Regions from separate parts of the Homo sapiens genome. Here region 1 is linked to region 2. The links come from fine-mapping of genetic effects on gene expression. A gene starts in region 2. The other region holds a variant in brackets. All regions are shown on one strand. Distances are between the middles of the regions. Region 1 overlaps HMCN2 (hemicentin 2). Region 2 holds the start of ASS1 (argininosuccinate synthase 1).

Region 1 (15,763 bases), 91 kb after region 2:
GTAGGTGCAAGCTCTGGGCAGCTCTAATCCCAGCCATCCCAGCAGTGCTGCTCCCTGCTCCCCATAGAAAATCCTAGACTAAGGGCTCTAAAACAGCTCATGTCCTCAGACTAAGCAACCTCACTCCTGGAAGCAAGCCCAAGAACAAAGAGCAACAGGCTGCCATCCTTACGGCAATCATACAGCACCCAGCCCCCACCCCAGGACAGCCGACGCCAGCACAGCCAGGGGAAGGGACAAGGACGAGGATTTCCCTGCAAATAAACCCCCAAAATAAGCAAACGTAAATATGAATGTGGGCAAGGTCTTCCACTAAAAATCCCACCGTGGCTCACGCCTGTGATCCCAGCACTTTGGGAGGCCGAGGCGGGCGGATCACGAGGTCAGGAGATCGAGACCATCCTGGCCAACACGGTGAAACCCCGTCGCTACTAAAAATACAAAAAAATTAGCCAGACGTGGTGGTGGGTGCCTGTAGCCCCAGCTGCTCGGGAGGCTGAGGCAGGAGAATGGCGTGAACCCGGCAGGCGGAGCTTGCGGTGAGCCGAGATAGTGCCACTGCACTCCAGCCTGGGCGACAGAGCGAGACTCCATCTCAAAAAAAAAAAAATCCCGCCAAAAGGGACTACACAGCTATTGCTAACACTTTCATTTCAGGGCTTTCTACTTCCTCTGAAGTTAAGTGCACAACTATGACTGAAAAACCTCCTCCCCCTCCCTCGCCACACACTTCAGCCCCAAGGGTCCCCAAGGGATCACCCAACATGCTGGCCTGGGCCCTGCTGGTTACCCACGTCCTCACCCAAAACTTTCAGCGCCACTTCCCTCTTGCTCTCCCCAGCCAGGTTGGTAGCAGCACAAGTGTAGATGCCCTCGTCCCTCAGGTCCACCTTCTCAATCTGGAGGGGAGGGGGCAGAGAGTATGCCACAGGGCTGTCCAAGTGATGACGGGACATGGCGAGTGGCCAGGCTGCTGCCGAGCCCGGGGGCAGGAGCAGTGAGGCATGGGGACACTTTTGGCTCTGGAGGTAGAGTTATGAGCCAAGCACTTGGATTCCAGGGATTCGTCCGATCTCCAGGCATACCATTCCCTGTCCCCCCCACTGACATTTTCTCCCTCTGACAACTGAAGCTCCTAGGACCCGGAAGAGGCTGAGGCTCACCCTTTCAGGCTGAGAGGGCTCTGGGCCCTTCCTATGCCCAGCCTGCTGGGATTTGCTCAGAGTCTCCAGGAAGCCCCCAGAGCAGCCCCTCCACCTGTGCCCAGCTGGCTTGCCAGCCCTGGGGCCCCTGCACATACCTGTAGGTTCCCCCCAAAGGCTGCCAGGGCTACACCATCCTTCCACCAACGGAGGCTTGGGGTGGGCACCCCATCCCCTATGCACTGGAGGGTCACAGGCTGCAGGAAAGGAGCTGTGATGTTCTCACCCCCAATGATACTGACCGATGGGAACTCTGGGAAGGGAAAGAGTCAGGAAGAGCCCGAGTCAGAATCAGGAGGAGTACAGTGGGCACCCAGCAACCCCCTCGATGCCTGGGGGTGAGAAGGTGCCCTTGAAGGGCTGGCCAAAGGCTAGCATCTAGCTTCTGCCCACCATATCCCCTAGACGCATGGCTTAGGGGAAAGAGCTCTAGACTGGGAGCCAGCAGAGAAGTTATTCTCTTTAAAAATTCTCCCAACCATCTGTGCACCCATGCATCTATTCATGCATTTATTCATCTACCTATCCTTCTGTCTATCCATCCTTCCATCCATCCACCCACCCATCCATCATCTACCAATCCATCCAGCTAGCCATCCACCCACTCACCCTTCCATCCATCCACCCACCCATCCATCAATCCACTCATCCATCCACTCACCCTTCCATCCATCCATCCATCCCTCCATCCATCCATCCACCCATCCATCCATCTACCCACTCTTCCATCCACTCCCCCATTCATCCACTCATCCATCCACCCACCCACCCATGCATCCATCTACCCACTCATTCATCCATCCACCCACCCACCCATTCATCCATCTACCCACCCTTCCATCCATCCACCCACCCACCCATTCATCCATCTACCCGCCCTTCCATCCATCCATCCACCCATCCATCCATTTACCCATCTATCCATTTACCCATCCATCCACCCTTCTATCCACCCATGCTTCCATCTATCTACCCATCCATCCACCTTTCCATCCATCCATCCATCCATCCATCCATCCATCCATCCTCCCTTCTATCTGTCCACCCATTCATCCACCCTTCTATCCACCCATGCTTCCATCTATCTACCCATCCCTCCACCTTTCCATCCATCCATCCATCCACCCTTCTATCTGTCCACTCATTCATCCACCAACCCATTCATCCACCCACCCATCCATCCACCCACCCACTGATCTATCCATGCATCCTTATGTGTGCTGAGCATCTACTCTGTGGCCAGAACTATACTGGGCCCCTGGACACAGTCAGGGAAAGGCAGCTACCATGTTGCCCTCTCAAAGCTCACAGAGGTGGACAGTGGAGATGGACAACCAAATAAGCAATCCCAATGTAGTTGTTGGAGGGCTAAGGCATTGAGAGGCTGGGCAGTGCAGATGAGAAACATGGTAGAATCAAGGAAGGCTTCCTGGAGGAAAAGTATTTCAGGATATGCCTGAAAGATAAGGAGCTAGGCAGGCAAAGAGGAGGGAGAAAGTTCTGGGCAGAAGGAACAGCAAACGTAGACGAAGACAAGAGAAAGAGGGTTGATATATTAAAAGAACTAAGTGAAGTTCAGCAGATGGACAGAGAGGAAGCTGGGGAGAGGAGTGAGGCCTAGGGGCTGGTCAGGACTGAGGATAAGTGTGATAAGTGGCCCGGCCAGCCTCTCACACCTGCGTCTCTGTGGGGAACTGGGAAGTCCAGCCCAGAAACGCCATCCAGCAAAGACCAGCCCCGTGCCCTTCCAGGCCTGCCACAGCCCAGGCTCCACCCACCCCTGGCATCTCAGGCTGCCCACAGCTCCAGAACCCCAGGCGCCCACTCACCATGCACAGACACCTCCACCTCGGCCCCGGCAGTGCCCGCCTCATTGGTGGCCTGGCAGGCGAAGAGGCCTGAGTGGTCCAGCTCCACATGGTCAATGTGCAGTGTGGTCCCCTGCGAGGCCACCTGCACCCCAGCCAGCTCCTCGGCTGGGCGGCCATTCTGCAGCCACCTAAGGTGAGTAGGGAGGGGGGCGTGTCAACCTGAGACCAGGGAAGGCCAGGCCAGGCAGGACAAGCAGGAAACCTAGAAGTTCCTCCCACCTGCTCTCACCAGCCGTGGCTCCAGGCCTCTTTCCTACTCCTGGAAACAGGAAGCCTCTCTCCTGTCCACTTCCCCCCACAATCCGCAAAGCACACGCTCTCTGCCTACCCCCAGCCCTGGCCTCCACCACCCCAGACTCACTGGATAGTGGGTACTGGGGAGCCTGAGGCCTGGCAGGGAAGTTCCAGGGGCTGTCCCACGATGGTGGTCACCTGTCCCAAGCCTTCAGCCACCAGGAGCTGTGGGGGCACTGCAGGCAGAACACACTCCTGGGTGTTTGGAGCTGAGCAGCCACTGGCCTCAAACCCTCCCAAGTCCCCAGAGCCTTCCAAGCGAGGCCCAGCTGCACCTCACCCTCACGTCTCCCTATCAGTGGCCCTTCCTCCAGGAGGCCTTCCAGGGCCACCCAAGGCGGGTAAGGGGACACCCCGGGCTCCCCAAAGGCTTGGGCCTAATTATTTAACATCTGCCTCCCTGGCAGACTGAGGGCTCAGGAGTCCGGTTGGCCTTGTTCCCAGCTTCATTTCCAGTGCCGCTTGGGGTCAACACAGCACTAGGACCTGAGATGCTTCAGCAATGGATGGAAGAGCAGGCGAAGGCCCCACCCGCCCTGCTGGGACCATACCCACAAGCCGGCCTTAGGAAAGTCTCCGTAAAGGGCCATTCCATTGGCAGAAGGCAGAACGAGGTCCTCTGTCCTGGGTGACCCAGCCCAGGGTCCTGGGCACAGTCAGGGACCCTTGATCCTGGGGCTCCACCCTGCCCACTCCTAGCCCTGCCGGCCCCACAGCCCAGGCCTCAGCGTCCTCATCTGTGTCATGCAATGTGGGGACACTGGTTACTTCTCCCCACCCTCCCTCCACTCCAGGAGCTCTCTCGGGACAAGCACGCAGCAGGCCTGGGCAGACGTCCACAGCCCAGGCAGCTCTGAGTGGGGTGGGCCGGGCTCACCCTGAACCTCCACGGAGTACTGCAGGACGGCTTCCCCGGCAGGACTGCTGGCCACACAGCTGTACAGGCCACTGGATGCCTCCCCCGGGCTCTCCAGCCTCAGCACACTCCCGTCTGTCTCCAGCCGCGACTCGTTGCTCTCTGCCACGGGCAGCCCCTCGTGGTGCCAGGAGAGGGTGGGGGACGGGTGGCCTCTGGCCACGCACTCCAGCGCCACAGGCCTCCCAGCCACAGCCTTCACCACGTATGGTCTTCCACCGGCGCCCTCGATGGTAGGTGGGACTGGAAAAGAGGCAGGGGGCGGCTTGGGGACCACAGCTGGACGCTAGCCTGCTCTCATCTCAGCCCAACAGGCCCGCTGAAGCCCCTCACCGACCCCACTCCATGTGAAACACTTCCTTCCCTCACCTCCAGTGGCTGAACCCCTTGCTCAGACCCCGGGGCAGCATTCTCACCCTCCTCAGCCCCTGGGCGCGCCACCCCACCCCTGGGTGCTGACTGTTGCCTCTCCATCCCCGCTGCTACCCCGGCAAGCCCAGCATGAGTGGAAAGACGGCCGGCCTACTTGCATCCCCAGTGCCTATACACAGCAGGTCCAGTGTCTGCTGGACTCAAATAAGACCCCCAGGGCCGGGACAGAGCTCTGCTCCTGGAAGTCCCCTCCCTCCCTGGTCTCAGGAGGCAGAAGACTGGGGCAGACCTGAGCCCAGATGGCTTGGATTGGGGGGCTCCTAACTTAGCCAGCGATGGCCAAGGGGACCAGATGTTAACTATGCTTGGAGCCCATGGTGGCCACGCCAAAGGGGAAATTTCTCTCCTACCCTCAAGGAGACCCTCAAGTTGCTGAGCTGATGAAGCCATTACCAGGGCACAAGGGGCAACCGTGGCCTGGGAGATGCTTCTTAACCTTATTTGGGTGTAAGACGCTTTGAAAATTTAATGAAAACATACACATACACATTTTCTATTTCATTTCCTGGGGGACCTCGGGTCCCAAAATAAGACTCCCTGAGCTAGCGGCGGGGCCATCTTCAGAGGCTGCCGTGGAGCCCATGCAGCTCAGCTGCCCTTTGAGGTTCCAGTACCCAAGCCCTTTGCATCTTTGGAAGCCAGAGCTCCCAAAGTGACTCCCCACGGGGGGCCAGGCTGACCCCTATCAGCTTGCACGCTGCCCTCTCACACTTCACCGGGGCCCTGCTCAGACCCATCCAGAGCCACCGACACCCTTTCCTCTGAGTTCTCCTTCAAAAGTCCCCAGAGCCAAGCCCCTCAGGGCTGAGCTGATGCTGAGGTTCACAGCATGAGGTCTGGAGTCAGATCTGCCCGCGTAAGGACCGGGTTCCACCACCTCCTAGGGGTGTGAACCTGGGGAAACCTCTCTGCTCCAGAGCTTCACTGCGACCATCTGTAACTGGGGACATGAGAGCTCAAGTCCCTTTGCCAGCTGATCAAATGAGCTGATGCTGCAAAGTGCCCCTCTGGTCTAGCTTACAGAAGTGATGAGCTGAGGGCAGTTAATTATTGTGGTGGTCACAGGGTTCTGGGCATGGTTTAGTGAAAAGCCCCACACCATGAGGGGAGACCTGGATTCTACACTTAGCTCCGCCATGGCCTCCTAGACAGGCCCTTCCACTCCTGGCCTCAGTTTCCTTACAGGTATGAGGGAAGTCACATAAGCTGGGAGGACCCTTCTCCCTAGATAATGTCTTGGTCCCATTATCCTTTTGCCTCTGACCACTCCAAGTGGCCACCTAGCCTTCCTTTGGAGACAGGCAGGGGCCACCATGGCTGAGTCCCTCCCACTGCCCACCCCGGCTGCCGTGGCCCCTGGCTGCTCACCATAAACATCCAGCCTGGTGGCCTTCTCTGCGGCCCCCACAGCATTGCTGGCCTTGCAGGTGTAGACGCCGGCATCGGAGCTCTGGGCCCTCCCCAGCTGCAACTGCCGACCGCCCCTAGTGTAGACCACCTTGGTGCTGGTGGGGAGCAGGGCCCCGTCCTTGAACCAGGTGATGTTTGGGGTGGGCACTCCTCGAGCCTCACACAGGAGCTGCACTAGGTGGTCCTCCATGACGGCCACCTCGCCTGTCTCGTTGGAGCCCCAGATAGTGGGGGGCGCTGAGAAGGAAAGAGGTGGGGCTGGTCACAGGCAGCCGCTGAGGCCTCTGGCATCTTCCCCAGGGCAGCAGACTCATGCCTTTGGGCCACAAGACACACCACAGGCTTCCATTGCGGGGGCAGGGAAGGCATGGTGGACAAGGAGGGGAGGGGTCTGGGGACAGATGGGAGAGGCCAGCATGGGGACATGCTGGTGTGGAAGGTGCAGGAGGTGGGGGCGGGGCCACAGGCTTGGATTCTGGGCCCTGCTCTGCTCTAACATACTGGAAGACCAGGGGTGAGCCACTTCCCCTCTCTGGGCCTCAGTCTCCCCATCTGTGAAATGAGAGGCTGGACTAGATGAGGACTTCACACAGGGCTGGTCACTCACCACCGATGCTACCCAGGACAATGCTAGGGGCACATGGGCACAGCATGAAATAACTGCATCTCAGAATGGAATGGTTACGCCCCTCCCAAATCTCCTTCTATCCGGGTTACAGCAAGGAAAGGCTCCGTTTGGTGCTACTATGCATGTCCCTAACCTTTCTAGCACTTTCTACTCTCCGCTTTTTAGCACAGAGAGTGCAGATGCAGGCTGGGTGCCCTCTGCGGAGTCCACGCCTCGAGAATTTACAACATTGCTCTATGGGGTGTGTTTGTTTTTTCAGCTTCCTTAGCCAAGCGAAACTGGTTTTCTGCTTACAGTTT[C/T]GATATTAAATATCCTTTATAAGAATAAGGGATATTTAAATAAATGTGTTTCAGTGTAAGGAAGTGTGACTCATTTAAAGAAAAGTAAATCATAATTCCAAGTGGTATCAGAAGTAGTAAATTTGGGCCAGGTACAGTGACTCACGCCTGTAATCCCAGCACTTTGGGAGGCCAAGGCAGGAGGATCACTTGAGGTCAGGAGTTCAAGGCCAGCCTGGCCAACATGGTGAAACCCCACCTCTACTAAAAATACAAAAATGAACTGGGTGTGGTGGTGGGCACCTGTAATCCCAGCTACTCGGGAGGCTGAGGCAAGAGAATCACTTGAATCTGGGAGGGGGAGGTTGCAGTGAGCCAAGATGGTGCCACTGCGCTCCAGCCTAGGCAACAGAGAGAGAATTCATCTCAAAAAAAAAACATAAGTAGTAAATTTTTAGAGCTGGGATGGAAACCACGGATTTGGAAAATGCTGGGCCAGATAACCTCTATCCCCTGACCCTGACCCCAACCCCGACCCCAGCCCCCAGCTTTCTTGGACTCAGGGATCACTCACCAGGTCCCCCATTTCAGCCCTCACTCTCCCTCTAAGGCAGCGGGCAGCTGGGTGGGAAGCTTCCTGAGTAGCCTGTGGCGGGGTCCCAGAAGGCGTGGGGGCTCACCATGAACTCGGAGCTGGAAGTCCCTGGCCTGCTGACCAGCTGGGCTGAAGGCCACGCACTGGTATCGTCCCTCATCCCCCACGTGACTGCCGGTGATCCTGAGAACCTGGCCATCCTCCTGGACCTGCAGGTGAGGGCCTCCCGGAAGGACAGGCCTGGAGAGACGGGCAAGGGAAAAGCGCCAGTAAGGCCGAGGGGCTGGATGGGACACGCTGCACACAGGGAGTGTGTGGCTTGTAAAAAGCGAGGCTGGGCCATTCATTAGCGCCAAGAGGTGGGAGCAATGCAAAGGCCCAGTAAGCGAGGAATGGATCAACAACGTGTGGTCCGTCCATGCCACGGAACATTATTCAGCCACAAAAATGAAGGCAATTCTGACACTTGCCACAGTATGGATGAACCTGGAAAATATGCCGAGTGGAAGAAGCCAGACACAAAAGGCCACACACTCTATGATGCCAGTGATGTGAAGTACCCAGAACAGGCACGTCCATAGAGAAGGAAAGCAGGCTTGTGGTTGCCAGGGGCTGGGGAGAAGGGGACAGCGACTGGCTGCTGATGGGTCCAGGGTGTCCTTTTGGGGTGATGGAATGTCAGGAACTAAATAGAAGTGAAAGTTGCCCCATGCTGCAAATGTACTAAATGCCACTACACTGCACACCTTTTTTTTTCCTTGAGACTGAGTCTTGCTCTATTGCCCAGGCTGGAGTGCAGTAGTACGATGGCTCACTGCAACCTCCACCTCCCGGGCTCAAGTGATTCTCCTGCCTCGGCCTCCCAAGTAGCGGAGACTACAGGAGACTACAGACTACCGCCACCATGCCCGTATATATATATATATATTTTTGTATTTTTAGTAGAGACGAGGTTTCACCGTGTTAGCCAGGATGGTCTCGATCTCCTGACCTCGTGATCTGCCCACCTCAGCCTCCCAAAGTGCTGGGATTACAGGCGTGAGCCACTGCACCTGGCCCACTGTACACTTTAAAATGGCTAATTGTATGTTACGTGGACTTTTTTTTGGACGGAGTCTTGCTCTGTCACCCAGGCTGGAGTGCAGTGGCTTGATCTCAGCTCACTGCAACCTCCACCTCCTAGGTTCAAGTGATTCTCTTGCCTCAGCCTCCCAAGCAGCTGGGATTACAGGCGCCTGCCACCATGCCTGGCTATTTCTTTTTTTTTTTTTTTTGTATTTTTTTGTATTTTTAGCAGAGACAGGGTCTCGCTGTGTTGGGCAGGCTGATAGCTCCTGACCTCAGGTGATCTGGCCGCCTTGGCCTCCCAAAATGCTGGGATTACAGGCGTGAGCCACCACACCCAGCCCATTATGTGAATTTTACTTAGAGAAAAAGTGAGTTTAAAAAAAGAGGCTGGGCACGGTGGCTCATGCCTGTAATCTCAGCACTTTGGGAGGCCAAGGCAGGAGGATTGCTTGAAGCCAGGTGTTCAAGACCAGCCTGGGCAACAAAGCAGGACCCCATCTGTACAAACATTTTTTAAAAAATTAGCCGTTGTTGGTAGCGCACACCTGTGGTCCCAGCTATTTAGGAGGCTGAAGTGGGATGATCTCTTGAGCCCAAGAAGCCCAGGAGTTTGAGGCTGCAGTGAGCTGAGATCGTTCCACTGCACTCTAACCTGAGCAACTGAGCAAGACCCTGTCACCAAAAAAAAAAAAAAAAAAAAAAAAAAGGAAAGGCTAAGAGATGAGAAGACTTTGCTGAGGTAAGAGTGGGGTCTCCCTGGCTAATCTCCTGCTGGGTGGGAGGCGCCCCTACAGCCCTCAGTCTGGGCCCTGGGTGGCACATGCCATGCCTGTCAGCTCCCCAAGAAGAGTTCAACCTTCCCCAACCCCCACATCCAGCAGGCTGAGTCTGGGCACCACCACACGCCATCCTCGGGGAGGGGGGCACTCACTGCCTGTCCTTGGTCCACTCCACCTGGGGCGTGGGGACCCCTGAGGTCCAACACTGCAGCTCCACGTCTGCACCGGCCAATCCTAGCACCTCCTGAGCGGCCCCGGCTCCAAGCACGGAAGGAGGGGCTGGGGGTGAGAAGGCGTGAGGGGTGGGAAACTGTTCAAACCCTGCAAGCCCCGCCTACCACGGGGCCTTTGTCTGTGCAGACCCCCCAGCCTGGGCCCCCCTCCTACCTGACCTTCCTGGGAAGCCCCCCAAAACCCTGGCCAGAAGGGCTTGCTCTGGAGCCCTCAGCACCCAGACTGTTCTTTGGTAGCACTTGTGACAGTAATGATTTTGCTATTCACCTGTCTGATGTCTGTCCCCCAAGCCTGATAGCTCTGTGAGGATGGGGGTTGGGTCTGTCATGGGTCCCTCTGTGCCCCCTGCTCTCCGCAGGCAAAGTCTACCCTCTCCCCCGGTGTGCCTGCAAGAGTTGGGGCTACAGGGCCAGACACACTTGGGAGTTACAGGGCTCAGGTCTCACTCACTGAGCACAAGGAGATGGAAGTCCCTCTGGGCGGTGCCAGCCTGGTTCTCTGCCCGGCAGGAGTAGAGCCCAGAATCACCCTCCTGGATCCTGGGGAAGTGGAGGGACTGGCCCTCGTCCAGGAGGCGGTGGCCGCCCACCTTAGGAATCTGGGTAGGAGAGGCCAGAGGGAGCCAGTAAGAGGGGATCCAGCCACCACCCCCAGCATCAGTAATGAGGAAACTGAGGCCCGAGAGGTGGCCAGTGGCCAGAACGGTGCCATGCTCTCTGCCACGCAGCCCCTGCCAGGCTTCACTACATGACCACTATCCTCCACTGCCGTGAACCCCAGAGCACCACCAAAGACACCTGTCACATCTCCCTGCCCCACCTTGGCACACGCAGAAATGCCCATCCAGAAGACCTGTCCCCAGCCTAAATCCCACCCATACCCCGCCCACCCTAGGGGGACACCCACCAGCTGCGCGTCCTTCAGCCACACGATCTCAGGGACTGGAAAGCCGTTCGCGTCACACTCCAGCGTCAGGGACTGCCCGGCCATACCCGACACGTTGGCCTTGCGCCCGTCCTCCCGGATGCTGGGGGGCACTTGGGGGCAAGGAGAGCCGAGGAGCTGCTTCCCTGCCCCCTTAGAGCCACAGCCGAAGGGACCTCATCTGGGCCATTCCCTCCCCTTCGTCACTGGGGTTGGAGAAGGTCTGCCTGTCCCCGTCCGCCCAGCCACAAAGGGTCCTGTGGACCTGCAGATGGCCGCAGCAGCCTTGCCCTGGGACCCACACACCCCCAGTCGTGCCCAGGCCCAGGTGTCACCCTTTCTGACTCTCAGCTTTGCAAGGTGCTGGAGTCCCCTTAGATCCATCTGGTTCTACACCCAACCTGGTGTCACAGTGACCAGGGAGGGTCCCCCTGAGTGAGAATCTCTGAAGGTGAGGCCTGGCCACGCTTTTGTAACAAATGTCTTGAGCAAGTCATTACAGGGCTAGCCAGAGCAGCTGGTCCTGGGGAAGCAGCAGGTGGCGTTAGGAGCTGGTAGAACTGCCCAAGCGGGGCCAGTTCATCCTGCCGACAGAGACCACTCCCCAGCCCACCCACACTGCCCGTGTTAAGGAGGGGTTCCTTTCCTCTGCACATAGCACCCTGGATGTGGGGGTGGGCGCTCTCCCTGCTGAGGACAAGAATGTGAGAAGAGACCAGGGGTAACAGTTTTAACCCGGAGGTGGGCTCTGGGGCTCTGCACTGCCATCCGTGCTCATTTTTAAAAATAATTTTTTAAGTTTATTTTATGTAGAGACAGGGTCTCTCTCTCCCAAACTGGTCTCGATCTCCTGGGCTCAAGCAATTCTCCTGCCTCAGCCTCCCAAAGTGCTAGGATTACAGGTGCAAGCCACCATGCCCAGCCAAGGGGTCATTTTAAAATGCCTTCACCTCTAGACCAATCTCAAAGACACTGATGGAATTCCAGGTGCTTCCCCCATACTGTCTCCGTGGGGGTCTCTCTAGGGAAGTGGGGTGTACAGTGCAACCTGCCACTCTCCCAGCCCCCTCAAGCCCTCCCTGTCACTGGCACCTGGTGGCAGGACCTGATTCTCCTGTGTAGGAAGCTTTCAGGCCCCGGGGAACTGGCACTGCCACACCTGGGCACGCCGTGGTACTGTCAGACCCCCGGCTTCACTGTGGGCCTCTGGCCGGATGCGGTCCTGGGAGGAAGACAGGCCCGTCTCTGGGTCCCTGCCGCTTTCCTCTCTTGCCCCCAGCTCTGGGTCCCTGCTCACCATAGACCACCAGCTTGGCTCTCCTGGACGTGGAGCCCACCTCGTTGGTGGCCTGGCACTCGTAGTCTCCACTATCCGCAGGTGAGACGGAGGCCAGGAACAGAGACCCCTCCTCCAGCACTGCCACACCTGGCTGGCCATGCAGGGGCTCCGAGGACGGGCCCTTCCTCCATGTGACCTGCGGCTTGGGCGTTCCTGGCAGGGTGCATGGAGTCATCAGTACAAACACCCTGACACCTTCCCCTCCACACCTGCACTGTCTCCCACATGTCTCTCCTGTGCAAAAGGGGCTGACGGTCCAGCGATGACTCCAGGCACCTCCGTCCCCCCGAGGCTGGAAGGAGCATTTCCCTCGGAGCCGTGGGAGCCCCCACACCCGCCACCTACCCACACTGCCCATCCATACAGCCTCCTAGGGTCCCTGAGGGACCAAGGCGGGGACTGCAGGCCTGTTTTCTGGTTCTCTTCACAGCAAGTCCCCAGTCCCCTCATTTAGAATTGCACCCCAACAGGCACCCCCAGCCCCTGCCCTCCCTGCTTTTCAGCCGTCGTCCTCCACTTTCCAGTGATCAGAGGACGCGTCTATGCTCCAGGTCTCTGTTGTCTCTTTTCCGTGTCCCCCACCCGACGAGGGCCAGGCTCTTTGTTTTTTTCCCTGCTGCCACCGCCAGCCTCTAGCACAGTGCCCGGCACACAGTAGGCACTAAATCAATGAACGAGCCAAGCCTGCCGTGCTCCAGCACCCTGCGTTGTGCCCTGGGGTTAGGGCCTGTGGGAGGCCCCAATTCTGCTCAGCCTGCTCCTGCTCCTCCCTCCACAAGCCTGGGTCAGTCACTTTGCCAGCCACAACCCCCAGCCCCACCGTGAGTGCCACACCCCCCTGCCTCCAGCCCCACCGTGAGTGCCACATCCCCCAGCCCCTTGATCTCTAGGACACGCCCCATGTTGGTCTGTGCACACAGCCTGGTACACAGTAGGTGTGCCAGAAACAGCTGCCCACTGGGCTGGAGTGGAGCTTTCATTCACGGGCCCCAAGGACAGAACCTGCCCAGAGGGGGTCCTATGTGAGCTGAAGCTAACAGCCCAGTCCTCCAAGTGACCCCTTTGAGGCACACTGCCCAGAGGTCGCAGCGTGAGCCCCAGGCACACACTCTGCTGCTGCCATCCTGGCCCTAGCTCTCACCTGCCCCCTGACCTCCGCCAGCGCTGACTCAGGGGAGCCTGTGGGGTCCCCACACTTGCAGATCGGCACGTCACTCCCACCCGCCTTCTGCTGCTACCGCTGGTCATCAGGACTGTTGTAGCTAACACTGATTATCATCAGAAAGGGCCGCCCCTGGCAGCGGGGGCCCAGGGGTAGACACTTATGCTGTGGGCCGCTCACTCTTTCATCCTTGGAAGGACCAGTAAGCATGGTGGCGGGGAAGACATGGCATGTGGAAGGCACACTGGCATCATCTCTGCAGGAGGCTGCCCTGCCCCCTCCGCCCTACCCTGACCGCCCACCGTAAAGTGCCAGAGACCCTCCCTGCTGGCATGAGGGACAGGGAGGGCCCAGGGCCCTGCTCCATGTCCACCCACGCTCTGGGTGTCCTTGGGCAACTTACTGAATCCCCCTGTGCCCGTTTTCCTCTGGAATCCTCTGCCCAGAATGCAGGCCAGAATGTCCCACCGCCAGGGGCTGCTACCCCCACTCCCCACTGTGGGGATACACACCACACACACACAACACGATACACACACCACACACCACACTACACACACGAAACACCATACACACATACCACACACAAACATACACACCAAGCACTACACACACCACATACTATACACACCAAACACCATACACATACCACACATGACATACATACCAAACAACACACACACCACACCCTATACACACCACACACCACATACACACCACATACTACACACACCACACACCAACATACACACACAGCACACACACACCACACACTACACATACCACACATACCACATACACACCACACACCACAAACATACACACACACAGCATACATATCAAACAACACACACACCACACACCACGTACACACCATACACTACACACACCACACACCATACACATACCACACACAACATACACACTACACACCACACACCACACACAATACATACCACAAACCACACTACACACACCACCATACACACACCACACACAATATACACACCAAACACTGTGCACACACCACACACCACACACAATACATACCACACACCACATACACACCATGCACTACACACTACACACACCACACACACAACATACACACCAAACACCATGCACACACCACACACACACCAAAACTATACACACCACATACACAACACATACAACATATACACCAAACACTACACACTACACACACCAAACCACACACACAACATACATGCCAAACACCACACACACACACACACACCACATACACCAAACACCATACACACACCACACACACAACATATATACCAAACACTACACACACCACACACACCAAACACCACATACCACATACACATCACATGCTACACACCATACACACAAACACCATGCACACAAAACACCATACACACACACACACCACACATTCACACATACGCACCACACACTACACATCATACACACACACTACATACACATCAAACAACATACACACACCACACACAAACATATACACCAAACACCATACACACATCACACACTACACACAACACCATACACATACACACAACATACAAACACTACATACACACCCCACATACCAAACACCACATACCACATACACACCACACACTACACACCACACACACCACATACATACACCACACACAAACACCATGCACACCACACACACAACATACACCAAACACCATATATATAGACCACACACACACAGAACACATACATGCACACACCAAACACTATACAACATACATGCCAAACACCACACACACACACCACATACTACATACACACATCACATACACACAGAACACATACATGCACACACATCCCACACATGACACATACACCACATACACACACTACACATTCGCACACTCACACACATGCACACCCCCCTCTCATCTTCCTCAGCTTTCCCCTGAGAGCCCCTGTACTTCCCGCCACGCCGGGGGCCAGGCCTTCCGAGCTGCAGGTCGGGAGGGGTGATGGTTTCTGCTGTGGAACCTTGTTTACCACAATCTCAGCCTAAAGTGCTCTAGTGCAGGACGGCCCTGAAGCTCTGTGACAAGGAGGACAAGGAGATCCCCGGGCACCAGCTGCTGCCCAGGGTCCCTCACGCCGCCCCCTCCCCACTGTGCAGAGTCCCACACACCACACACACCACCAAGTGGGTGTCCAGGCTCTGGGCCTTCACGCCCCACCCCACCCCACGAGGAAGAGGCAGATGGTGTCACTGCAGGGCCCAGGGAGTCCCCATGAGGGTGCTGGGCTCAGTCCCAACCCTGTAGCCCTCAGAGCGCTCCGAGCCCAAGGCCACAGGGCTGTGAAACAAGGCCCTCCTGACCAGGAAGGAGGCCGGGGCAGCCCAGGCGGCAGGCCTGGTGGGGAGAGGCAGTGCTATCAGAGGGGATTTGGGTGAGGCTGACAGGCTCAGGACTGGTCCCTGACTGACCAGGGCTGTGTGTGGCAGTCAGGGGCTGGGTGGGTCCCACCTTCCACTGTCTCCCACCTCCCAAAAGCGCAGAACGGCTGCTTGCTGTTAGCAGAATCCAACGCAAGGTGGCGCCATAGTCAAGGGCCGGGGACCTGGGTCGGGGAGGGTCGGGGGGC
Region 2 (15,763 bases):
TGGAGCCAGCAGGTGGTATCCATGGCAACTGCAGCCAGGCAATTGGCCATGCAGGATGGAGGGAAGGAGGGAGGAAGGCAGGCAGGGAGGACTTAAGGTGGGCAGTACCTGGGATTGGAGGCGTGAGTTCCCGGCGTCTGGAATCTGTTTTCACAGTGCAGTGAACCACTCTGCAAAAGCAGAGCTACTCAGCTGCCTGCAGGTAGCCTGGGCCATCCCAGAGGCCCTAAACCTTACTTTCCAGCCGCCCAATCTCCTGTGAGCAGCCTCACTGAGCAGAGGAGGTCCAGGAGCCCCAGAGCCACCTGTCCTGCCTCCTGCCTCCTGCCCCCTGCTCCAGAAGGCATTCAGGAAATATGTGGAAGCCTACCCCTGTTTGCGTGTGATGGCGCGGGTGGTGTGGTTGGGTTGCGGGAAATTCTGTTGTATGTTTTAAAACAGCTCTATTGAGGTCTACTTGACATATCATAAATTGCATTTTTTAAATATCAGATGGGTAATGTGCCAACATCATAACAAAGTTTGAGGGTGGCACCTCACACACACACGAGAATACCCAATCAGCACATTCATCAACTACAAAAATAATCGCATATTTTTTTGTGTCCAATTTAGCAAGTTTCGGCGTGCGGATGCGCCCGTGACATCAACACCACAATCAAGGGAATAGACATGTCCGTCTTAGGCTAAGCCCTTCCATCTGGGGTTCTCTTCATTTTAGAGTCAGGAAAACTGAGGCTTGGGCTGAGGAACTTGCCCTGCATCTCGTTTGACTGGTAGGCAGCAGAGCCAGGACTCCAACTCAGATCAGCTCGGCTCCTTAACCCCCTGCTCATAGGTACAAGACCACCACTGGAGACTCAAGGAAGGGAAGTCCTGGGCAAGTGTGATCTGATGATGCTGGCCCAAGATTCACCCAGCTCTGAGAGTCACCCCTGCTCCTGCCTCCTCCCAGAGGCACCTGGAGCCAAGAGAGGCAGCTCCACAGAAACACGGAGGGGCAGCTCCACAGAAACAGCTGGATCACCTGCATCGCCTCAGTGACCCGCCATGCCTCCTGCCCATCAGAGCTGTATCCTTTTTTTTTTTTTTTTTTTTTCAGACAGGGTCTCATTCTGTCACCTAGGCTGGAGTGCAGTGATGCAATCTCAGCTCACCACAGCCTCCACCTCTTGGGCTCAAGGGATCCTCCCATCCCAGCTCAGTGCCACCACCCCCAAGTAGCTGGGACTACAGGCACATGCCACCACACCTGCCTAATTTTTGTATTTTTTGTAGAGATGGGGTTTCACTACATTGCCCAGGCTGGACTCGAACTCCTGGACTTAAGCGATCTGCCTGCCTCAGCCTCTCAAAGTGCTGGGATTCCAGGCATGGGCCACTACATCCGGCCATCATGCTGTATTCTAACTGCCCTCTCCCCCACTATGAGCTCCATGGAAACAGGGACCATCTCCCAGATGCCTGTGGCAGGCACTTAGAACAATGCTACTAGTTCCACTCTCTGGAGGTCAGCTCCTCACCGCAAAAAGAGGGCTGGGGTGCCCTGAAGCTGTGGAGTCCTACACATGCTCTCATGGCCGAGCACAGTGGTTCATGCCTGTAATCCCAGCACTTTGGACGGCCGAGGTGGGTGGATCACTTGAGGTCAGGAGTTCCAGACCAGCCTGGCCAACGTGGCAAAACCCCGTCTCTACTAAAAATACAAAAATTAGCTGAGTGTGGCGGCACACACCTGTAGTCCCAGCTACTTGGGAGGCTGAGGCACGAGAATCGCTTGAACCTGGGAGGTAAAGGTTGCAGTGAGCCAAGATCGTGCCACCACACTCCAGCCTGGGTGACAGAGTGAAACTCTGTCTTAAATAAACCAAAAGAAACCAGTGAGCCCCTCCTGCCTGCCAGGTTGTAGCTGGGCAGGTGTGGGCTCTGAGGCCTTCAGCCTCTGGGGCTGGGCAGTGTGAAGCAATGCATGGACCTGGCGTGTGTACCTGAGACAGTGTGTGTGTGTGTGTGTGTGTGCGCGCGCACACACCTGTGTGCACCCAGGGGTGCGTACCTGAGAGTACACAATGTGTGTGCATGCATGTGTGTGATGTGTTTGGGCTTGCACATGTGTGCCTGTGTGCATGCACACGTGTGTGGGTGTTGGGGCCAGTGTATGCATGCAGAGAAATGAGCTGGGCAGATGGGCTTGGGAAAATGATGCAATCAGACAGCAGCGTTGCTCCTGCCCTCCCAGCAGCGGGTGGGGCACCCCCCTCCCTCAGCCTCCGCAGGTCCCTAAGCTGCATTTGCAGCCCGAGGCAAAAACTAAATGAAACTGAGGGTTTGATGTCGGGGGAGGAAGTGACAGGGAGAGAAGGAACCACAGCTGCAATCCAGTGAGCGCTCACTCCAGGCACAGGACAGAGGTCAAGTCCACCAGACATGGGTTTGAGTGGCTTCAGCTCTCTAGCATAACTGCTCAGCTGCAAAATAGGGGTGCAAACAGCCTGCTCCCCACAGGGCGACTGTAAGGATTGGGTGAGATGCTGGGGGAAGGAGCCCAGAGCTGGGCACCAAGCATGTATGTGCCCACTAAGCTCTGTGCACCGCTGCTATGGCTGACCTCAGCCAAGTTCCTGGCTTGCTAAGCCTCAATTTCCTCATCTGTACAACCTGACAGCCCTCTGGGTTCTGACCCTCCCAGACATTGGGCTTTCTTCCTGGGAGCTGCGCCTGGCAGGCAGATCCTGGCTGAATTCAGCCTCCCCTAGTCCCAGCTCCACCCCCACCACATCCCCCAGAAAGGGCCACGGCAGGTTTCTCCAGCTCCCTGGCAAATGCCCACTGCCCTCCAGCCCTCCTTCCCCGGAAGAGACACCTGGGAGGAGGGAAGGTGGCCTCGCGTCAAGGTACCAGAGCCACCTGGCTTTCATTGGGATGGCATTCTCTGTGGCCCCAGCCACAGCCATCTGTCCAGCTTCCAGCAAACAGGCCAGCCTGGGCGCTCACTTGACACTAAGGAAAACTCGTGCTACTTGAAAACGTCAGAGCTGGAATGACAACAAGAGCGGCTACTATGTTCACAGTCACAGGTGCATCCTCTCAAGGTGGAGACTGCCATTACCACCTATTTACAAAGGAGGAGGCAGAGGCTAAGCGGCCAGCCGAGGTCACAAGCTAGCGGCTTCAAACCCAGCCTGACTGCAGGCCACTTGCTCTTCCCTGCACTAGGCCTTCCACTCCCTGGCTCCTAGGAGACCTCAGATCTCCCCTTCACTCTACACACCTTCCAGAAAACCAGCCCCCCAGTGAGTCATGGCCAACCTGCCCACTATTTCTCTGGAGAGCCTGTGTGCTATAGCTCAGGCCTACTGCCCCGTGGAAGATTCCCCTGCAACCCCTCGCTGACATTCTAACTCAGCTGAGCTCGGTTTGTCTTTGGTGATGGACGAAGGGCACATTCATTCATTCGTTCCACTCATATCAAAGTGCCTATGGGTGCCTGGTCGACCCCAAGTCTGGGGAGGGAGCCACGCCCTGGAAGATCAACTTTGCCCAAAGCTACATCAGAAATCAGAGCCTTAGACTCTGAATTCCAGCGAAGTTACCTCTTTCCACATGGGTGCCTGGTGCCCACAGGCAAGCCACTGACTTCAGGGACTGTGTAGTCAGTGCTCAGATGAGGCATCTGGTTGACCTGGCTGGCCTCCCAGCAGGCCAAAGATGAGATGGGCCCGGGTTGGGAGGGGGAAGCGCTTGTGCAGCAGGCTGTTTTGGGCCTGGCTCCACCCCAAGGCTCCTGCGGCCCTGGGCCTGCTTCCCAAGCACTCAGGAATGGAGACTGTGCTGAGAGTGGGGCCTCCCCTTCCCTCTCACGACGTGTCTGCCCCCGCACCGGCCAGGCGCTCAGCAGGCAGGAGTCACTATTCATTCACTTGATCCACCCCCACAGAGCAGAACCAGAATTACTTCTCAGCATGGTGCACAGATGGCCCCGCCAGGACAGGGTCCCGCCCCCACCCCCAAACTTCCCCGCCCTAGGCCTTGGGCCTAAGGGGTCTGGGAGGGAGAGGGAGTTTGGAATGGAGACTCCTCCAGTTCCTGCTCCTAGCCAAGCTTCCCAGTCCGTGTGGCTGCTTCTCCCTCCCTCTCATCAGAACCTAACCCCAGGCACAGTTATTGTGCAATTGGACCCAGGCCCAGCACCCAACAGTCTACAGAGCCCTTAGCAGCCGCACAGTATCTGCAAATGTTTCCTGAGCCCTCAGCCCCAGCCAGCTCTAACAGACTGAAGCTTGGGGGCCAGGCACTTTGGGTGGCTCGAGCCTGTAATCCTAGCAGTTTAGGAGGCCCGAGGGAGGAGGGTCGCTTGAGCCCAGGAGCTCGAGGCCAGCCTGGGCAACATGACGAGTCCACATCTCTGATAAATTTTTAGAAAGAAAAGAAAATGAAAAGGAAGCTTGGGAATCTGGAGGCTGAGCCAAGGCCTCACCAGCTCTCCCCATCACTGGGTTTGTGCTTGCTGGGAGCGGGAGGATCAAAGCCCAAGTCCCCTAGGTCTTGATCTACCCCTGGGGAGAGAACAGGTCTGTTCCTGCCCTGAGACCTGCAGCCTGACTCGGCTGCTCGGGAGTGGACTCTCCACTTCTCAGAGAAGAATACTGAGGCCAGGCCAGCCCTCCTCAGGAACAGCCCTGGCCGCCTGGGAGAGGAGTTTCCTCTCTTTCACAATGACCCTGCCTCCCTGGAGGGCGCAGCCGCCCAGGGGCCAAAGGCAACAGCAGCCCGAATAGAAAATATTCCTGGCACTGCCCCTCCCACAGAGCCCAGCCCAGGCCAGCAGGAAACCCCGCCGCGAGGCCGCCAGCCCCACCGGGGAGGGCCAGGTGGCTGCCGCCCCCTGCAGGGAAGGGAGCCAGGGCCACCATGCCCATCTGTCCAGGGTAAACTGAGGCTGCGGGGAAAGCGATACGTCCAAGCCCCAGAGGGGCTGGACTCCTGGTTTTACGCAGAGAAATAGAGGTGGAGACAGACGGCGAGTCCGAGAGAGGGAGAGAGAATCGGGAGCCCCCCCACACGCTCCGGACTCCCCAGGTCTCCATGTGGGGGCTTCACGACACAGAGGAAGCCGGATCCGACAAGGAGTCCAGAAAGGACCCGGCTGCGCAGGGAACAAATAACCCGAGCCGCTCTTCGGACCCGGGGACTCGCGCCCCCGGGGACTCGCGCCCCCGCCGCGTCCCCCACGCTCCAGAAACCTGGAATCCGGTGCCAGGCGTTTGAGCATCGGGAGCCCCTTCCCTCCTGCCTCGGTCCCAGTCCCCGGCGAGTGGCGATCGGGGTCCGCCCTCTGCCTCCGCGGGCCCCGGGGCGGGCGTCTTCTACGCCTCCTCCTCTGGGCCCGGGAAGCGGGTGCTCTCGGCTAGGGAGTGGGCAGCGAGAGGGGCCGAGGGCTCCTTACCGGGCTCGGGCAGCGGTGGCAGGCGGCAGAGCAGGACTGGCAGGGGTGCCCATCCCAGGTTATAAGCACAGGGCCCGGGGGCAGGGCCGGTGACCGGGGACACGTGGCGGGGACGCGCGCCACAGACCCCGCCCCCGGGCCCGGCCCCCGCCTGGAGCCGCTCAGCGTTCACAGCCACCTGCAGATGGGCGGGGCCCGCCTCCCCAGGCCTCGTCCCCACCTCCCCCCGCCTCCCACCAGGTCCGGGCCTGGGCCCGGCGCCGGCTCACCCTCCCAGGGGCGCGCCGGCGGGGGCGCAGGCGGCTCGCGGTTCCTGGCCCTGGCCCGCGGGCTGGAGGCGCCAAGGAGGGCGGCAGTGGCTGCGACCCATGTAACTCAGGGGCGGAGGGTGGCCGCAGCCGTCCTTCGAGAGACTTGCCTCCTGGCCCTGGGGAAGCAATTTAAACGCTTCGCGGTGGGAGCCGGGATAAAAGTTCCACTGGCGCAGGGAGCTTCGTGCTCACTTCTATCCGGTGCCGGCAGCCTGGGCCTTCTGCAGCCCCCAGAGCCCCCTCCCTCCCCAACCATAGCCTCTGGTAGCCGAGTAAGGATGAGAAAACCGAGGTGAGCCGGCGCGGGAAGGCCCGGCTTTCATCCCTTAGGCCAGGGCTGATTGCTGGCCTGTCTTCTCAGAGCCTGGCACCTGCCCAGACTCCAGAGGGCACCCAGTAAGCAGTGAGTAAAAGACTGTCTGGCTGCGAACCCACTAGACAGGAGGGAAGGTTGAGGTTCAGAGAGAAGTCTCTTGCTTGTAAAAAGCAGCTGGGAGTTGTGACCCCAGGCCCGCCTTCAACAGCTTCTCTACCTCAGGAGTTTCCCAGCTTGGTCTGCCGGCTCCAAAGCCCTGATCACTGCAACCACAGCCCCAGTAAAAGAGCAAGTCCTGGGACCCCATCCAAGGCAGTTGCTCCATAGTGAGCACTGACCCCAGAAGGGAGGACTCCCGGTCCTCAGCCGGCTCTGAACCTGGGGGAGGTGGGAGCCCCAAGCCTTGCCCAGCCGCTACCCTGGAGTCAGTGCTCCTTTTAATCACCATCCACTCTCAGCCCCTCTGCCAGTCAGCCCCCACCACCCCCTCAAGCCCATGGCAAGCAACAGTAGCTGTGAGTCCTTCTAGAAGGAAAAAAGGATCAAACCAATTCACAAACAAAGCCACAGCTCGATTCTCTCTTAAGCCCCTTAGTTCTCTGACACTTAAACCTGGGATGTGGCCCTTGATGGCAAAGGGGCCCCTGGTGAGCCACGTGGGGCTGGGTGTACATGGGTGGCTTGAGGCCCCTTCTAGATGGGAGGCGGTATCACAGCTGGCCCCCCTCAGCCCTCTCACAGGAGCAGCTGGGGGTCTCGTGGAGTCTCTGGGCCTCCCACACTAGCAGGAGGCAAGTGAGGAACACCTACACAATGACACCCTTGCAGCAGTTGTGTGTCCTTGGGGCGGTCACTCCCCACTGCAGCCTGTTTTCTCATTGGTAGGGTCGCCCTGGAAAGAGCAAGCATTCTGTTTTCACCTTCACGACTACCCTGTATGAAGTACCTGTGATTGTTATCTCAATGGTATGGGCAGAAACCTGCTGCACAGAATGACGGTGTATCTTTCCCAAGGCCACACAGCATGTGAGTGGCAGAGCGGAGCTAGAATCCAGTGTCTGAAGCTCTGGCTCAAACCCTCTGCTTTAGCTCCAGCCTGAGCTGAACTGAGGTCACAGTCCCAGGGTCACAGGCTGCTGGGACCTTTACTCCTTGCCGCAGAAATGGTTCCAGCCTAGGGGACAGACCCTTCCTAACTCACATGCACCAGTGACATGAGGGACAGTGAGGTCACAGCGCTCCTGAGAAGAAAACAGGGGCCCAAACTGCCAGCAGCACCCCGCCCCCCACCCCCACCGTCCTGCCACCAACAGCAGGGTGAGTGGTTGCCCAGAGGCAGAGACCAAGGTGAGGGAGGACTGGCCAGCTTCTGAATGAGCCCCATTCTGCCTGGACCCCTCCATCGGCCAGGGGGACCTTCAACCCTGCCCTGGCCCTTACCCTGCAGAGCAGTGCTGAGGGCCAAAGTGGGGCGTGGCCCAAAGGGATTCCCCCACCTGAGACTGGGGCACCATGGCCTTTGACTTTCATCTTACCCCCTGCCCACACCTAGGTCAGGGGTCCTCCAGGAGCCTTTGCACCTTCTAGGTAAGTGATCTTGGTGGCATTCCTAAAAACAAAGCAGCACCTAGGCCTGAGCAGGTGGAGAAACAAAGGCACTGGGATCTGAGACACTCATACCTTCCTTTTTTTTTTTTTTTTTTTTAATTTGGAGTCTTGCTCTGTCACCCAGGCTGGAGTACAGTGGCACCCTCACTGCAGCCTCTGCCTCCCCGGTTCAAGCAATACTCCTGCCTCAGCCTCCTGAATAGCTGGGACTACAGGCCCGCCACCACACCAGGCTAATTTTTGTATTTTAAGTAGAGACGGGTTTTCACCATGTTGGCCAGGCTGGTCTTGAACTCCTGACCTCAGGTGATCAACCCACCTCCGCCTCCCAAAATGCTGGGATTACAGGTGTGAGCCACCGTGCCCAACAACATTCATATCTTCTAAATATATCAAGTCTGCCCCTTTCTCTCCACTTCCACTTCCTCCATACAGGGCCACCATCTTCTCTTACTGAGACCATTATAATTTCTTACTTAAGTCTCTTTGCTGGCTCCTCCACTTACCCTAGTTGCCCCTCCAACATTTCCTCCCCAACAGCCAGAGAGGTTCTGTTTGTTTGTTTGTTTAAGAGATAGTTTCTTGGGGTCACAGGTATGGGTACTCCAGGGCCCAGCTCTGAGATGACTAATTTATTGGACACCTTGGATGACTGGCCTGGTGGAGGCCTGTGCCCAGGCAAAGGCCTAAGTCTTCCATACAGTGGAGAGGAAGACCTGGTAGGTTGAGACATCTTTGATAGGTGGTATAAAAGTCCTCAGTTTCTTTTCTTTCTTTTTTTTTTTTTTGTATTTTTCACTGATATATCTTAGTTATACATATTTTGGGGGTACATGTGATGTTTTGATCCGTGTATACAATGTGTAATCATCAAATCAGGGTAAGTCTTCAATTTCAGTGGAGGTACCAAGAGATCCATCCTGGTTTAGATGTCTGAGCAATGTTTTATGTGTATAAGTTTTGCCTATCTTCCATCAAATTTACTTCTAAGAATTTTAATTTTTTGATGTTATCATACATGATATTTTTATTTTCCAATTGTTCCTGGCATATAAAATCAACTTTTGTAAATTAGGTTTATATTCTGCAACTTTTTTTAAATTCACTTATTGACTCTAGTAGATTTTTGTAAATACCTTAGGATTTTCTAGGTAGACAGCAATGTTGTCTATGAATAGAAACAGTTTTACTTTCCCCTTTATTACCTTTGTACCTTTTTTGCTTGCCTTATTGCAATGGTCAGTATCCCCAGTAGAATGTTGAATAGAATTGGTAAGAGTAGTTATCCTTTCCCTGTTCATGATCTTAGGGCAGAGGATTCATTCAGTCTTTCACCGTTAAGTACAATGTTAGCTGTAGGTTTTTCATAGTTTTTTTTTTTTTTTTTTTGGTCAGAAGAAGTTCACTTTTCTTCCTTATTTATTGAAAGATTTTTACATAAATAGGTACTAAATTTTGTCAAATGCTATTTCTACACCTATTGAAATGATCATATGATTTTCTCCTTTATTTTATAAATGTGGTGTGTTACATTGATTGGCTTTCAGGTGTTGAACCAACCTTGCATTCCTGGAAAAAATTATATCTCAAATTGATTTTTAAGAAAAAAAAGAAACAGAAGGGGAATCTTTGGGTTAAAAGAGCTATAAAAGATAAAATCAAGGCTGGGTGTGGTGGCTTATGCCTGTAATCCCACCACTTTGGGAGGCTGAGATGGGCAGATTGCTGAGGCCAGGACTCTGAGACCAGCCTGAGCAACATAGTGAAACCCTGTCTCTAGTCAAAATACAAAAACTTAGCCAGGTGTCATGGCGTATACCTGTAATCCCACCTACTCAGGTGGTTGAGGCACAAGAATTGCTTGAACCTGGGAAGCAGAGGTTGCAGTGAGCCAAGACAGAGATTGCAGTGAGCCAAGATTGCACCACTGCACACTCCAACCTGGGCACAAAACGTGCTCTGTCTCAAAAATAAAATAAAATAAATCACAATGTTTAGATCTCATTTAGATACTGATTTCTTTTAAGTGCAAAAGAAATATTTTTATTTTTATTTTTATTTTTATTTTATTTTATTTTTTTGAGACGGAGTCTCGCTCTGTCGCCCAGGCTGGAATGCAGCGGCGTGGTCTCGGCTCACTATAAGCCCCGCCTCCCGGGTTCATGCCATTCTCCTGCCTCAGCCTCCCGAGTAGCTGGGACTACAGGCGCCCGCTACCATGCCCGGCTAATTTTTTGTATTTTTAGTAGAGACAGGGTTTCACTGTGTTAGCCAGGATGGTCTCGATCTCCTGACCTCGTGATCCGCCTGCCTTGCCTTCCTAAAGTGCTAGGATTACAGGCGTGAACCCCCGCGCCCAGCAAGAAATATTTTTATAAGCAGTTGGAAGTTTGAACACTGATGAGATATTCAATAACAGCAAGACAGAATTACTATTGATTTTTTAGGTGTAATAATAATGATATTGTAGTTATTTTTCTTTTTTGAGACAAGGTCTCCTCTGTCTCCCAGGCTGGAGTGCAGTGGCACGATCTTGGCTCACTGCAGCTCCACCTCCCGGGCTCAAGTGATCCTCCCACCTCAGCCTCCTTAGTATCTGGCACTACAGGCACATGCCACCACACCTGGCTAATTTTTGTATTTTTAGTAGAGATGGGTTTCATCATGTTGCCCAGGGTGGTCTTGAACTCTTGGCCTCAAGCAATCTGCCTACCTCGACCTCCCAAAGTGCTGGGATTACAGGCATGATCCACTGCACCCAGCTTGTAGTTATATTTTTATTGAAAGATTTATAAAGTTTTAGAGCTATGTACTGCAATATTAATGAATAAAATGGTTTCTGAAGCAAGGTTTTGATGGTCCCCATGACTCTTAGGTTCAAATCTCAATGGCTGTACTTCCTCCTCTGCCCTTACCCACTATACTGCTGCTGCCGGCCTGGCTGTGGTTGTTTCAACGTGTCAAGCCCTTTTTGCCATGTGGTCTTTCCACACACTGCTCCTTAGTGATGCCTCTTATCCTTTCCCTCCCCCACCAGATCAGTTGCTTGTCATAAGCTCTGATACTGGCACAGAGCAGAGGGCTGAGGCCTCCAGCAAGAAAATGGAAGAATGTGAGCGCTCTGGTTCCTGCTGTCTCTCCCCACTGCTCTTATCTTAGCCTGGATGACTGTGACCTCTCACATGCACCTCTGCAGGAGACACCTCACCTATCCTCCTGCCTGTGCTCACCATCCCCTCTGCTCCATGCTCCACATTGCAGCTGGGGGCTTTTCTAAGAGTCAGCTCTGACCTTTTCTTTTTTTGAGATAAGTCTCGCTCTGTCGCCCAGGCTGGAGTGCAGTGGCACAATCTCGGCTCACTGCAATCTCTGCCTCCTGGGTTCAAGCAATTATTCTACCTCAGCCTCCAGAATAGCTAGGATTACAAGCGCCCACCACCGCACCTGGCTAATTTTTGTATTTTTAATAGAGACGGGGTTTCACCATGTTGGCCAGGCTGGTCTCGAACTCAACCTCAGATGATCCGCCCACCTCGGCCTCCCAAAGTGCTGAGATTACAGGCGTGAGCCACCGCGCCTGGCCTCAGCTCTAACTTTGGTGGCCACTTGTCTGAGTGGCTACAGGGCAAGCTTAATGGATGTGACCTCATCGAATGCCCCCAGCCACCTAAAGGCATAGATACAGCCTGTGTACAGAGCCCTGGAGTGGGCTTCCTCCTGCCTCCGTTTCTCGCCTCTGCCACCCAAGGGCTCTGGACCTGCTGGGCATGAAGGGGCCTGGGTGTGTAGAGACTTCAAGGATCTCACCCTGAAACCTCCTTGTGGTTGGCACCAGAAGCCACTTTGCCACTGCCCAAGCCTGGGCATTGGCCCTGGGAAAAGAGAGTGTCCTCCAGGCCAGACCCTAGGTTGCCAGTCCTCGCCCACAGGAACACAGAGTCCAGTTGTTGGGTTCGTGGAAAACCCACATCAGGGAGTTCAATGCCTGACCTGCAGGCCTGTTTTCCACCCCTGATGGTGCAAACAGACTCGCAGAGGTCAGGTGGCACCAGGGGGCTGGGCAGCTTGGACAGAGTCTTGGCCAATGACAGCTGGCAGCTAGAGAAAAAGAAGTGGCAAACACCCTTTTTGGATGGAAAATACTCTCTGGCTCTGGCTGTGGCTTGCTTGGGAGGGGCCTCCTCTGCTTGGTAACCTTCCTTAGGGGCGGGGTAAGCAGTTGGAGTGTAGGGGAGGAAGGGACTGGGTCAGAATCTACCTCCAAGGCCTGGTCTGCCTTGGGCTTTCTGTGTGACCTTGGGTAAGTCACTCCTTTCCCCCGGCCTCCGCTCCATAGCCTCAAATGGAAAAGGAGGGAAAAGTGGGGAGGCAGGGGGCTGAATAGACACTCCCTTTTTAGCTCCTCACATCTTGAATTGCCAAGGGCCCTTGTCTTCAGCCTGCCCCTGGCCCTCTCTCTCTTCCCCCTTCCTTGGAAAGTGGAGGCAGGGGAGCCTGGTGGTCAGAGCCCAGGACTCTGGAGTCAGATGGACCTGGGCTGAGTCCTTCTCTTCCCCTCCAGGCTGTGTGAGATAGATAAGTGGCTTCCTTCTCTGAGCTCTCCTTCTCTCATTTGTGAAATGGGGATGCTGTTTCTTGGCTCTGGAGCTCCTGGAAGGACTAAGTAAACCCAAGTTGCCGGGCACGGTGGCTCACGCCTGTAATCCCAGCACTTTGGGAGGATGAGACAGGCGGATCACGAAGTCAGGAGATCGAGACCATCCTGGCTAACACGGTGAAACCCCATCTCTACAAAAAAAAAAAAAAAAATTAGCTGGGCGTGGTTGGTGGCGGATGCCTGTAGTCCCAGCTACTCTGGAGGCTGAGGCAGGAGAATGGCATGAACACAGGAGGCGGAGCTTACAGTGAGCCGAGATCGCGCCACTGCACTCCAGCCTGGGCGACACAGTGAGACTCTGTCTCAAAAAAAAAAAAAAAAAAAAAAACCTCAAGTCTGTAAGACACTGGACAAAGACTTAACAAGTAGTAGTTTCACAAACATGGAAGGCCTGCGTGAGACTGGGAGCGGCCTGCAGGAGACAGCAGGGGTGAGAGAGGAGTGGCACCTCCCCTCTGTGGGTCTCCGCCTCTGCATCACCTCCACAAAGTCCCCAGCTCCATAAAAAATTAACAGCCTAGCGAAGAGCAGTGCTCCAGTTCTGACCCGTTGACCCCTGGCGTTGCACAAAGAGGGGCGTTCGGCCCAAGGAAGGCCCTCACAGGTGGACCCTGGACGAATAGGGTACAGGAGGGCCTGGGAAGCCCCTCCCGCACTTCTTCCCGCCTCCTCTAATCTCTCCACCCAGCCTGGACTTCCATCATCAGTAATTTCTGTGGTTTAAACCAGAGATCAGCAAACTCTGGTCTGAACTTGTTTTTGTAAAGCCTGCGTGCAAACTAAGAATGGCTTTTACATTTGTAAATGGTTGAAAAACATCAAAAGAAGAATATTTCATGGCACATGAAAATGATAATAAATTTGAAATGTAAGTGTCCACAAATAAAGTTTTATTGGAACACAGCTGTGCCCATCTGTTCATGGGTCCTCCGGGGCTGCTTTTGCGCTGCAATGGCAAAGGTAAGTCATTTTGACAGAGCTTGAATGTCCCGCAAAGCAGAAAGTACTATCTGGCCCCTAACAGAAAAACTTTGCAGACTGGTTTGAAGGAAACCTACAGTAAGAAGCATCCTGGAGAAGGTTCTACTGGGGCTGTTAGGTGGGAATCAAGAGTCCCAGTTTGACCATTAACCAGTCACACCTCAGTCAAGTGACTGGATCATGTTCCCTCCCTGTACCCCCCTTTCTGCATCTGTAAAATGGACACAGCGATTTTTTCTCTGTGTACCCAGAACAGCTCTGTTAAGACAGCCTGATTGTCGTTCATCTCTAGAAGGAACTAACTCAGACAACTTTCCTCATTGCCCAGATGAGAGGGAGGGGACAATTAGGGGGAGCTGACCATGTCACACTAAGTAGGAGGAACAGGGAGAGAGGCACTCTTTTCTTCAGAACCATATGCAAAAGACAACCTCTCTCTCCCAGAGGCTGTGTCAGGGGCAGCTGGCAACAAAGAGGCCACCAGGCAGGGGCTGCTGCCAGCCCAGGGAGAAGGGCAGGAATGGGAGGAGAAGGATAAACAGCCAAGCTCCGTTTCACCTACACTCCTCCCGAGACCCAGCACACTGGAGATAGGCCAACACGCAGATATGCATTGACTTTCTTAAAAACCATTTTCGTTAGAGATGGGGTCTCGCTCTCTCACCCAGGCTGGAGTGCAGTGGCCAAATCATAGCTCACTGTAGCCCCAAACTCCTGGGCTCAAGGGTCTTCCCTCCTCAGCTTCCCAGGTAGCGGTACTACAGGCATGCACCACCACACCTACCTATACATGTGCTCTTGTATAGGTCACTCATCAAAGCCAAAGTCCCTGTGGTGGCCCAAAGACCTCACAGGATCCACCCCACCCCCTTGACCTTTCTGTCTTCCCTTTCTCCCACCTCATTCATCTCCAGCCTCCCCAACCTCCTGGCTGGACCCTCCTGCCTGAGGGCCCTGACACTTGCTGTCCCCTCTTCTCCTGCCCTGACCGCCTATTAAAACTATCCCAGGGGCCGGGCACAGCGGCTCACATCTGTAATTCCAGCACTTTGGGAGGCTGAGGCGAGTGAATCACTTGAGGTCAGGAGTTTGAGACCAGCCTGGCCAACATGGTGAAACCCCGTCTCTACTGAAAATACAAAAATTAGGCCAGGCGCGGTGGCTCACGCCTGTAATCCCAGCACTTTGGGATGCTGAGGTGGGTGAATCACCTGAGGTCAGCAGTTCGAGACCAGCCTGATCAACATGGAGAAACCCTGTTTCTACTAAAAATACAAAATTAGCTGGGCATGGTGGTGCATGCCTGTAATACTAGCTACTCGGGAGGCTGAGGCAGGAGAATGGTGTGAACCCGGGAGGTGGAGCTTAAAGTGAGCCAAGATCGCGCCACTGCACTCCAGCCTGGGCGACAGGGCCAGACTCTGTCTCAAAAAAAAAAAAAAAAAAGACTACTTAGGAATTGTTGCACTACACTTCCATCCATCCATTCGTCCAACAAAGGCCCTTCCTGTAGATGAATTAGATGAATTATTAAGGCCAGGGCCTAGAAATGGCCCTTGCCTTCAATAATCCATCCCCCAGAAGGGGAGATGCTATCAGGAAAAAGATAGCTCAGAAGAGGACTGCAAGTGAAAGCCAGGGGTGAGCTGCAAAGGATACAAGATGACAAGCAAGCCATAAAGAAGCCCGCTGTAAGAGTCTATGACTGGAAAGCGACAAGAGTTAGAAGATAAAAATAGGCTGGGGTAAGCCAGGTGCAGTGGCACATGCCTGTAATCCCAGCACTTTGGGAGGCTGAGGTGGGCGGATCCTTTGAACCCAGGAGTTCCAGACCAGACTGAGCAACATAATGAAACCTCATCTCTACAAAACATTTAAAAAATTAGGCCGGGCGCGGTGACTCACGCCTGTAATCCCAGCACTTTGGGAGGCCGAGGCGGGCAGATCACCTGAGGTCAGGAGTTTGAGACCAGCCTGACCAATGTGGAGAAACCCCATCTCTACTAAAAATACAAAATTAGCCGGGCGTGGTGGCGCATGCCTGTAATCCCAGCTACTCGGGAGGCTGAGGCAGGAGAATCACTTGAACCCAGGAGGCGGAGGTTGCGGTGAGCCGAGATAGCACCATTGCACTCCAGCCTGGGCAACAAGAGTGAAACTCCAACTCAAAAAAAAAGAAAAAAAATTTAGCCAGGTGTGGTGGTGCATGCCTGTGGTCCCAGATACTCAGGAGGTTGAGGTAGGAGGATCGCTTGAGCCTGGGAGGCAGACATTGAGGTGAGCAGAGGTCACGCCACTGCACTCCAGCCTGGGTGACACAGCAAGATCCTATCTCAAAATAATAATAATATCACACTGGTATTTTCCTAAGGGAGTAGATATGAGGTGTTCTTGCCACAAAAATAAGTATATACAAGATGATGGGTATGTTTTAATTTTTTCAA

The links. PIP is the estimated chance that this variant, and not a neighbour inherited with it, causes the effect.
Region 1: its variant is fine-mapped to the expression of ASS1 in esophagus mucosa (GTEx, PIP above 0.99).

The regions. Positions count from the first base shown.
Region 1 is chr9:130,343,526-130,359,288 of GRCh38, reverse strand. It overlaps HMCN2 (hemicentin 2), which reads right to left. Exons shown (of 98, transcript NM_001291815.2): 26 at 11,929-12,123; 27 at 10,614-10,744; 28 at 10,158-10,305; 29 at 9,626-9,752; 30 at 7,712-7,866; 31 at 6,084-6,362; 32 at 4,245-4,526; 33 at 3,435-3,543; 34 at 3,032-3,201; 35 at 1,301-1,455; 36 at 803-899. Among named protein-coding and RNA genes, the nearest start is that of HMCN2, 86 kb to the right of the region's middle. RefSeq lists an enhancer at 1-405. The variant C/T (reference allele first, on the strand shown) is at 7,053.
Region 2 is chr9:130,434,679-130,450,441 of GRCh38, reverse strand. ASS1 (argininosuccinate synthase 1) reads right to left here and starts at 5,481. Exons shown (of 15, transcript NM_054012.4): 1 at 5,447-5,481. It overlaps LOC124902349 (small nucleolar RNA U13), which reads right to left and starts at 586; the gene lies at 487-586. RefSeq lists enhancers at 2,674-3,341, 4,011-4,678 and a silencer at 5,559-5,678.